Linked DNA regions of Homo sapiens: region 2 is reported to be linked to region 1. The links are microRNA targets in miRTarBase. Many come from high-throughput screens and were not tested one by one. Region 1 holds a microRNA gene; the other region holds the end of a gene's coding sequence.

Evidence for each region. The annotated mature microRNA hsa-miR-500a-3p reads AUGCACCUGGGCAAGGAUUCUG and lies in region 1 at 1,470-1,491, shown strand. An mRNA with a match to its seed (bases 2 to 7 or 8) in the 3' UTR can be bound and repressed. Matches are read on the target gene's strand: a 7mer-m8 pairs with bases 2 to 8, a 7mer-A1 pairs with bases 2 to 7 and ends in A, and an 8mer does both.
Region 2: the mRNA of FDXR is a reported target of hsa-miR-500a-3p. The part of its 3' UTR that is shown has no 7-base or 8-base seed match.

Annotation. Positions count from the first base shown.
Region 1 is chrX:50,007,013-50,012,082 of GRCh38, forward strand. MIR500A (microRNA 500a) reads left to right here and starts at 1,419; the gene lies at 1,419-1,502. All of the region lies in intron 3 of CLCN5 (chloride voltage-gated channel 5), which reads left to right. It overlaps MIR362 (microRNA 362), which reads left to right and starts at 1,952; the gene lies at 1,952-2,016. MIR501 (microRNA 501) reads left to right here and starts at 2,710; the gene lies at 2,710-2,793. It also overlaps MIR500B.
Region 2 is chr17:74,858,577-74,863,637 of GRCh38, forward strand. FDXR (ferredoxin reductase) reads right to left here. Exons shown (of 12, transcript NM_024417.5): 11 at 4,500-4,670; 12 at 3,921-4,371. The coding sequence ends at 4,241. GRIN2C (glutamate ionotropic receptor NMDA type subunit 2C) reads right to left here and starts at 1,309. Exons shown (of 13, transcript NM_000835.6): 1 at 1,168-1,309. RefSeq lists an enhancer at 2,136-2,834.

The DNA of each region.
Region 1 (5,070 bases):
TGTAGACCTGTATACACGGAGTCCCACTGATCAGGTAAGCAGTGGGTGGTTCCTTCCTGCCCTAACTCTACTCTCTTTGCCCTCCCAGAAAGGGCAGTGAGCTGTCTCGGCATTCTTCCCTTAGGTAGCTGTTGAATGAAGATGCACTTCCTTGTTAATGTTCTCTCTCACAATCACAGATACACAAATACTCGTATATGCACATGTGCACAAGCAAGGCATACAGGAGAATGAGCATGCAAGGGAGGCCCACATGTGGCTGGGTGCCCAGCATATGCAGACATGTGAGCATACAGGGACAGGAGAGACAGGAGCCTTTTTGATTATACTCACAGGGCCAGATGCCCCCATCTTTACTCATTTTCTGTCTCTCTCTCTCTCTCTTTCTCTCTCTCTCTCTCTCTCTCTCTCTCTCTCTCTCTCTCTGTCACACACACACACACACACACACACACACACACAGAGAGAGTGGAACTTCTGATGTTTTCCTTCATATCCCTTATGTGAAGGGGCGTGAACTTTGTTGACCTAGGGAGATTGAAGGAGAACCTCATCAACTCACACGTGAGGAATTTAAGAGGATGAATCTGTGTATCCCCTTGTGCAGGCACTCACACTCACAGATACTCGGACCTCTTCTCTCTCACCTGTCCCTTGCATGCAGGAGTTTCACCATCCCCCTTAAAAATGCACATTCATTCAAACACATATATACATAAAAATAGAGAGTAAGAGGTAAAAATATTGACGGCTGTGTGCCAGGTACTATACTTTATTTCATTTTCTTGACACCATTTAAGAGGTAGGCTTTAAATTGTCCTCATTCTTCAAAAGTGTTTAACTTGACCTTGGGAAAATCAGGTCGATTCTCTAGGCTAATATGTGGTAGAGCGTGCATTTGAACCAAGGTTCGTAGATACCAAAGTGCCTGGTTTTTCCACTACATTAGTGATTCTCCCAGTGTAGTCCCTGGACCAGTAGCATCAGTATCACCTGAGAACTTGTTAGAAATGCAAATTCTTGGGTCTCACCCCAGACTCACCAAGTCAGAAACCTCTGTAACCTGTATATTACCCAGGTCTTCAGATGATTCTGGTGCATGTTAGAGAACAACTGTGCTAAACTGTACTGCCTTCTTGTTGCATAGTCACACAAAGCATTTGCGGGATCATGAGCTTTGGCGTTATATTCATTCTCTCTTTCCTCCCTTTCACACTCCTCTCTCCTCCCAGTCTCTTTATAGGTTTATACTTTTTTGTTGTTACTATCTGAGAGAACAGACAAAATGTGTGTTTAACTAGACATCTTTAATGCAAAGCTCAAGAACTGTTCTCTTTACTTCTATATCATGACAAGTAAGTACCTTGTGTGAAGAAGAATGAGCCCTCTCACTGAACATTCACAGGGCTTTGTGTTCTGCTCCCCCTCTCTAATCCTTGCTACCTGGGTGAGAGTGCTGTCTGAATGCAATGCACCTGGGCAAGGATTCTGAGAGCGAGAGCTTCATCTTCGTGTAGGACAGAGCGTCTTTCTGTCCTCCTATCATCCATTCCACAAGTATTTATTGACCACCTTTTCTGTATATGATACTAAGTTGAGTAATGAGCATACAGTTGCTAACAAGACATGCTTGGTCCCTACCCTCATGGAGCTACAGTTGAGGAAGAAGAATGGAATTCCTCATCATCCATTACACCTACATGCCCTGAGAGTGGGTGGGCCACAGAGTGGACTTCTCATTACCACTGTCACCCACAAACATACACAAAAGCATGAATCTTCTCTGATCTCACATGGAACTCTGCAGGAGAAAAGATTCTCTGCCTTTCTGTAAAGTCCCTAGTAAATGACACTGTATATACATGAGAGTGAGACTTGGTTATAGCTACACATGCACACATACAAACACACAAAAAGGGCAGGTGTCAGAGCCTTCTTGTCTGCTCCCCCTCTTGAATCCTTGGAACCTAGGTGTGAGTGCTATTTCAGTGCAACACACCTATTCAAGGATTCAAAGAGGCTGAGCCTTGTCTACATGTAGAAGGACCAACAACCTGTCCCCTTCTTTCACATGTTTGTGTTTGCTATGCGGTGCCAGATCCTGCACTGGGTGGTGGAGATACAACGGTAAATAAGACAGCTAAGGTCCCTGGGCTCTGTAGAGGGCACCTGTGGGAGAATGAACTTCATCATTGCCCTGGACAAGCTTACACCTCTTTGAGAGCATGAGCTTTCTGTTTACTCCCAGCTTACTATGTGTCAGATACTGTAATGGGGAAACACACATTGGGTGATGAGACTTGCACAGCCAGTCTTTGCTCTCAGTGAGCTTATAGTTTACCAGAGAAACAGAAGAGAATGAAGTATCCCAATTTTCTGTACCATCTTCCAACATGTGCATGTACATGTGTGCCCACATACAGTTTGTCCCAACCTCCTTGCTAGGCCCCAAATACATCCAGCACCTGCAGACCCTCAAGTGTGATCTGAAAAAGATGCCACTCATATCTTTCATTCTAGTCTGAGGTTTTGTCTGAGAGGGCATGTCCATGTGGCCTTGTGCAGGGGGATGAATACATATGCTATCCCTGAGGAGAGGCATCTGTCTTAGCAAATGCACACAGAGATACTTTGCAGGAATGGGACCATGAAAGTCAAATATATATGGAGATATACATGCAGGGTGCAGGTGCCTGAGTCTTCTGCTCTGCTCTTCCTCTCTAATCCTTTGTCCCTGGGTGAGAGTGCTTTCTGAATGCAATGCACCCGGGCAAGGATTCTGAGAGGGTGAGCCCCCTCTGCGTGGAGAACAGAAGATCTGTATGTCACCTCTCAGCTGCTTGCTGCTTGCCTGCCTGCTCTCTGACCCTCATTCATTCTTTCCTTCCACAAATAATATGTATTGGGCACCATGATGGGCATTGGACACAGAGAAATGAACAAGGCAGACTTCGCCCCTGCCTTCCTGGATATTATAGCCTGAGAGGAGAATGGACTTTGTCACCACTCATTGCCCCTGCATATACTGAGGGTGAGTGGGCCACATAGGAACTTCTTATCTACCCTCTTCCCACCTTAACCCACCCATAAGTGTGAGTCTTCTCATTCCTGCTGTCACATTGATACTTGTTTCTTGTTTTTTCCTTCTTTCCTTCCTTCCTTCTTTTCTTTTTCTTTCTCTTTCTTTTCTTTCTTTCCTTCCTTTCCTTTCCTTTCTTTTCTTCTCTCTTTTCTTTTCTTTCTTTTTTGATGGAGTATTGCTCTGTTGCTCAGGCTGGAGTGCACTGGCACCATCACAGTTCACTGCAGCCTCAACCACCTGGGCTCAAGCGATCCTCCCACCTCAGCCTCTCAAATAGCTGGGACCACAGGCTTGTGCCACCATGCCTGGCTAATTTGTGTTTATTTTTTGTAGAGATGGGGTCTCACTATGTTGCCCAAGCTGGTCTCAAACTCCTAGGCTCAAGCAGTCCACCAGCCTTAGCCTCCCAAAGTGTTGGGATTATAGGTGTGAGCCACTGCACCCAGCCTGATACTTGTCGAAGCAACTTCTCTCTACTTTAGTTCAATGCAAGGTTAATGCACTAGGCAAGAACAGCAAGCCTTCTTGTTAGATGCACATGTGAGGTGTACAGGTACTGGAATCTCCTGTCCTGGTTCCCCCTCTCTAATCCTTGCTACCTGGGTGAGAGTGCTTTCTGAATGCAGTGCACCCAGGCAAGGATTCTGCAAGGGGGAGTGACATCTTCGCATAGGACAGAGCACTTCTACCTCCTCCTTCCATCCTTTCTATGACTATTTGTTGAGTACCTACCTACTCTATTGCAGGTGCTGTCCTGGGCAGTTGGCCCACAAGAGAATGAGCCATATCTGGTTCCCTACCTTCATGGAGTGTACAGTTCAGGGAGGAGAATGGACTCCTTCTCATTCATTATATCTGCATGTCCTGAGGGTGGGTGGGGTACAGGGTGGGTGGGGTACAGATACATGTTGGAGAATCTACTAAACCTCAGTACAATCACACATAAATACGCTGTGTGCAAGAGAAAGGGCCTGACTTGGTTACATCCACAGAGACATGTCCTCACAGAGTGGTCCCTCTGACCTGGTGCATCACTCACATTCTTTCAGCCTGTGTGCCAGTACTGCCTTGACTCACTGTCCCTTTTCAAGAATTCCAAGGGAAGAAGCCTTGTCTACACTTAAAAGGACAGAGCTTTTGCACATCAACTCTCCCTCCTCTTCCTTCCACAGATACTCAAGTGTCTATTAGACAGCAGGTATTATGTTCATCACCAAGGATATAGCAGGGATCAAAATGGACAGGTTGCTACCCTACATTCTGGTAGGGACTCATAAACACACTATACATAAATGTTGTGGATGAATAGGCCACTGTTCAAAAGAATGAAGTAGATCTATATGTTCCTTGTTACCCAGTCTGCATGCACAAGCATGTGCAGGTTCTGCTCAAGTGAAATTCTCAAATGTCCCCAATCCTTGTACACCAGACACACTCAGAGACATGGCCCTGCATGCAGAGAACCCCACCTACTGAAAGGGTAGGAGATGGAGCCTGTTGTGCTCTCCTCTCTCCCATTCTCAGCGTGCAAGCCAGTGAGCTTCCTTAACTCCCTTATAGATGGGGATTAAATGAGGGAAGTCTTCTTACTGCTACTTTCCTTCTTGCTGCTCTGTATAGGAGAGATCCTTTCATTACTTTTCTGTACAGTCACAGATGAACACACTATATGCGGTGAGCCTTCCCTGTAAACCCATGTGAGCACATGTGCACACACGCACACGTGCACACACACATACTCTGTATGGCTGCTTGGGCCTTCAGTCCTGTTCCCCCTCTTGAATCCTGGTACCTGGATGCAAGTGCTGTGTCAATGCGGTGCACCCAGGCAAGCATTCCACGGCTGAGCCTTTTCTGCATAGAGCGAAGAACACCTGTTTATAATCCCCATCCTTCATTCATTCCCACCTTTAACAAGCAGGGGTGGCGCTCCTGTCATGCACCAGACATGGAGAGACAGGGTGGTCAAGAAAGACACAGAACTCATA
Region 2 (5,061 bases), not on the chromosome of region 1:
CCACAATCTCCTCCCTTGCCTCCCCCTCCCCACCTCCCACCTACCCACCCCCGCCAGCCCCACTGCACTGCTGAAGCCTTCCTCCAGCCACTGCTCCCTCCTCACACAGGACAGCTACACCCTGGTGCCCACAAATGAAGTCCAGACAGCTTAGTCCCATAGACAGAGCCCTCTGCACCCTGACCGCAACCAACCGTCCTCCCATCCCTGGAACCCACAGCTCTGCCAGTCTGCTGGCCAAACAGCCCCATTCTGCCCTCATCTCCAGGCCTCGTTCCAGCATCCCCCAGGCTGGAATGTCCTCATCCCAACAGAAGTCTACTCTCCTTCAGGGCCCAGCTGAAATCCCTCTCCCACAGGCACCTGCCTTGATGCCTCAGGCTCTAGGCGCAGGGACTGCGGCCAGGCTGGGGCACCTGCCCTTCTTCCCCCTGCCCTGGCTTCCCCTCCTGGGTGGGGAGCTCTGTGTAGTGGTCCCCTCCACCCCTCCATTCTGCCCTGCGGCAGGTGTGTGTGCACTCATTAACACCCTGCCCCACACTGGACTGCGGGCTCCTTGAGGGCAGACACATTGTCTCAGAGACCTCTGCCCACCCACCCACTCAGGGTCTCACCCCTTCCACAAACAGCCCTTAAACTAATGTTTGACAAACACAGAGATCCCCAAAGAGCCCCAGAGAGGATGGCAGTGGTCAGTCCTGCAGGACACAGCAGCATCTAGAAGGGTCTGAGCACCTTCCCAGGCTGGGGGCCTTCTCCTTCCCGGGTCCTCACAGCTCAGCCAGACCCCCTGGCACGGACCTGCACACACATGCACACTCCCGCACTCATACCCGCTCACATCTGAGATACCGATGGCTCTCCCTCTCCCAGGCTAGGAAACTCTGTCGCAGGAGTCCTCCCCACCCACCAGCAGAACCCCCGGACCCCCTGCCCTTCCGGTGAGCCGCCCCTCCTTTGCCGTCGGGTTTCCCTCCCTCCCTTTTGCCCAGCCAAAACCCGAACCCAGGCGCCAGGGGAGAGGACCGCCGTTCTAGCTTGCCCCACTGCTGGGGGCACGGAGTTCTTGCTCCTCCAAGGCTACGGCCCCCGTCTCCGCGGACCCCGCCCGGACTCCCCCTGGCCACCGGGACGCCCCGCCCCCTCCCCTCCGCAGCAATCTCTTACACTCGGGCTGTGAAGTTCGGGGTATTTTTAGGCCGGCGATAAATAATTCATAGGGAACGTGGCATCAGGCTCCCCCCGCGGGAGGAGGGGGCGCGAGCAGCGAGAGCCACCGTCACCCGCGGCTCAAGGACACTCGCGATGCGGCGGCGGCGGCGGCGGCGGCGGCTCCGGGCGGGGACCCGCGCCACGCCTCCTGGCGGCCAAGCTGAGCACCACGCACCCGGCGCCCCCCGCCCCACGCTGCCCCCCGCCGGCGTCCGCGGCTCCGGGGCCCCCACCCCCACTCCCCCAAGCTGGGTCGTGACCCCGAGTCCCGCAGTGGGGGGACCAAGCCAGCCTGGCAGGCGGCCCCAGTACCATCCCAGGCCCGCCCGGGGGCCCTGGGCGAACCCAGGTGTCCCGGACCTGCCTACCTGCCCCTGGCACGCTCTTATTCTTCGGGAGTTTAGAAACAGGCTCAAAGTCACTAGCACCGCCAAGACCTGGACGGGCTCTGAAATACAGCCAGCGGAATGGTACCCTCCCCAAATAAGTGTCTTTCCTCGATTTTCCTGTGGCCCGGGGTCAGGGACTGAACTAAGATAACGCCACCATCCGAGGGCTGGGGGACCGAGCCAGAAGTCCCCTTGGACGACCAGGGCTGGGAAACCGAGTGGACGAATGGGGTGGGCATCAGGGCCTGGCGGGAATTCCCGTCTTGCTCACCCAGCAGCTCCTTGCAGGGTCGCGGGACGCACCTGGGGGTTCAGGTTGCCGGGTGCCTTTGCTCCGCGTGTCCCCGCCCTGCCCGCGTAGGCAGGAAACAGGAGACTCGGGGCTTCCCCTCCCCGCCGTCGGGGATCCTGGGCGAAGCCCCCAGAGACCGGCGCAGGCGGCTGGTGCGCAGCCAGGGCCCAGCGCCAGGTCTTGCTCGCCCAGTGCCCTCTCTGCCTACCCTTCCCTTTGCGCTCTGGAAGCCCGGGAGCCGGGCACGGGCCAGCATCTGCAAGATGCCACTACTCTGGAAGCCCACTCCGATTCTCCCAGGTCGCAGGAAGGAGAGAGCTAGGCTGGGGCAAAGGAGATGGGGCAGAGCTGGAAGGGGAAGAAGCGGGACTCGCGGCGGGGGAAGGGGTCTGGGCGCCGAGGCGAGTGCGCAGCAGGTGCCCAGCAGACCTAGGGAAACTGGGGCACTGGGCTGGGGAGCCGCACAGCCCCCTTTCACCTTCTCGACTCCTTTCCAACCCCTCGCTCTGGTGGATCCCAGCCCCGGCCCCCACTCCCGGCCCTGTTCCCCGCTCTCCGCCCCGGCGGCTTCCAGCAGCAACAGTTTGGGTCCGCGGCAGCCCAGACTCCCCTGGTCCCGCGGTGCTGCCGCGCCAAGCGAAGGAGGAGGAGGGCTCGGCGACCCTGGGGACGAACGTCTTGGACGCTTCGCCCGCGTCCTTCTCTCGCGTCCGCCGCGCGCCTGTCTGCTCGGCCTCTTCTTCGCCTTCTCTCCGGCCGCCCGGGTCAAAACCCAAGGCCAGGTTCTTGAGGGTCCGGGTCCTCCAGCCGCCCCCTCCTTGAGCCCCGAGAGTCCTGCGTGGGTCCAACCCCCCGGGTGTCCCGCCTCTGTCTCCGCCGTCCTTGCTCGCGCGCCGCGGGAACCCAGCCCCAAGTTGGCGGCGAAGTTGGTGCCCCTCGCCCGCCGCTCGCCACTTACCGAGGGGAAGGGGCGCTGCGCCCGCGACGAGAGCCCGCGCCGGCCGCCTCCCTCGCGGTGTCTGTCCCAGAGCCTCGGCCCCGGAGGGCTGGCGCGCTCAGTCTCAGCTCCGCGGGCGCCGGAGCCCGGGCGCGGCGGGGCGGGGGCGGGGGCGGGTGGCGCGGCCTGGTCCGCTGGCCCCGACCCGCCCCTGCGCCCCGCGACCCTCCCGAAGCTCGCACGGCGCCCGGCTCCGTCCCGGGCTGGGCTGCGCACCGCGCCTCCTGCTCCCAGAGCTCGCAGCCGACTGTGCGGGAGCTCTCACCGCCGCCCGCGAGGGCCCGCCCCGCCGGGGCCCGCCACCTCCGCCCCGGCCCGGCCCGGCCCGCTGCCCCTCGAGGCCCCTCCCGCCGCATTCCCGGGCCCCTCTCCCCTCTCCGGAACCGCGTCCCCAGACCTGACACTCGGGGCAAGTGCGCCTCGGAGGACACACCAGCCTGCCCGGAGCCTGGGTTTGAGCCCGCAGCTCACGAGTGTGTGACCTTGGGCCAATTTCGAGGACCCCTCAGGTTATACAGCGAGGCAGCATCTTGAGGGCTGCCATAAAAGGGAGTGACCACTCTCTGGACACTGCAAAGCCCTAGGGAGACTGAGGCACTATTTTTAAAGGCCAGTGTGTCTGACTGGAAACGGAAGCAGGAAGGCTTTGAGAGCCAAAGAATGGGCCCCAGGCTAGACTCGCCTGGGGCACCCAGAGGTACAGGGGACAAGCTGCTTCTCAGTCCCCCGCTCCCATTTCTTTTCTGTTTTGATTGTACTGAGGGCTCCCCAGGGAGGGGTGGTCCCGGTCCCGGTCCCGGGCAGCCCTAGTGTGGACAGAAGACAGGCAACCCGCAGCCACAGCAGGGCCGAGCGGAGAAAGGAAGGGTGGCTATGCCAGGCCTGGCTGCCGAGCCCCATCAAGCCCCCAATGAGGCCCCTGAGCAGGGAGCCGTCTCTGCAGCGCCACCTGGTGATGGTAGGGGAGCTACGGCCAGAAGGTGACCCCCGACCCCAACCCTTCCAAAAAAAGTCCCCCATCAACCATGGCTCTTGGTTGCAGCTGTTTTATTTCCAGCATGTTCCCAACCTGGTGACCCTCCACAGTCCAGCAGTAGAGAGATGGGTAAGGGGTTAGATCGGCCCACACCTCCACCTGTCCCTAAGGTTACCTCAGTTGCTGAAAGCTAAAACCTTGCGCGCAAGGGCGACCTTCCCCAGGAGGGAGGAGAGACGCTGGAAGAGCAGCCAAGCCTCCAAGCCAGGGCCGGCCGGGATCAGCAGAGGTGCAAAGTCCCACTCAGACGGACCCAGCCCTTCCCCTCCCAACACTCATCCCTTCCCTGCTGGGGGCCGGGGCTGGGGCTGGGCTCAGTGGCCCAGGAGGCGCAGCATCTCCTGAGGATCCACCAGCTTCTCCCTGGGCTTCCCCGTGCCCTGGCCCCGGGCCACCTCCTCGGCATCCAGCTTCTCCCAGTCTGAGAAAGAGACTGGCCGGACCCCTGAAGCAGAGGGGAGATTGTCAACACCTCCTCCTTCACCCCTCCCAGAACAGCCCCCTCCCAAAGAGTGAGGCCCAGAGAAGGACCACCCACCCCACCTCCCAGGACCTCAGCATCGGGGCCCAGACCTCGGCTGCTGAGCAGGGCCTGGATGGCTGCGTAGCCAGGCCTGGGGCCAGAGGGGAGCAACCCAGCCTTCAGGTCCTGCAGCAGCATCTGGCCGGTGAGGAAGCTGTCAGTCATGGTTGTGGCTATGACACCTGTAGGTCCTCTCTTCACCCAGCCGCTGCAGTAGAGGCCTGAGAGGGGGTAACAAAAGGGGAAGGGAGGGAGGTGGCTGGATACCACCCTGGCCATCCTGTGCCCACAATCTACACCCACGTGCACGCACACAGACACCCCACGCCTCTTGGCAGACTGTCGGCTGAGCCTGCTGTGGCCGCTGGTCCACTGCCCTGGATTCTTCTCTCCCTGTTTTTACCAGGCCGACCCCCTTACACCTCAGTTTCCCTGTAGATGAGGGGATCCCTAAGCTTAGGAGCTGAGGCTTGCTCCCCTGCAGTTTCAGTAGGCCCTTGGTAAATGTTTACCAAGTGAATTAATCACTAGATAGGTATGTGGGCACTTAGTAAAACTGGAAGCTCCCTGAGGACACAGGCTGCCTTATTAATCTCCAATCCCAGCACTAAG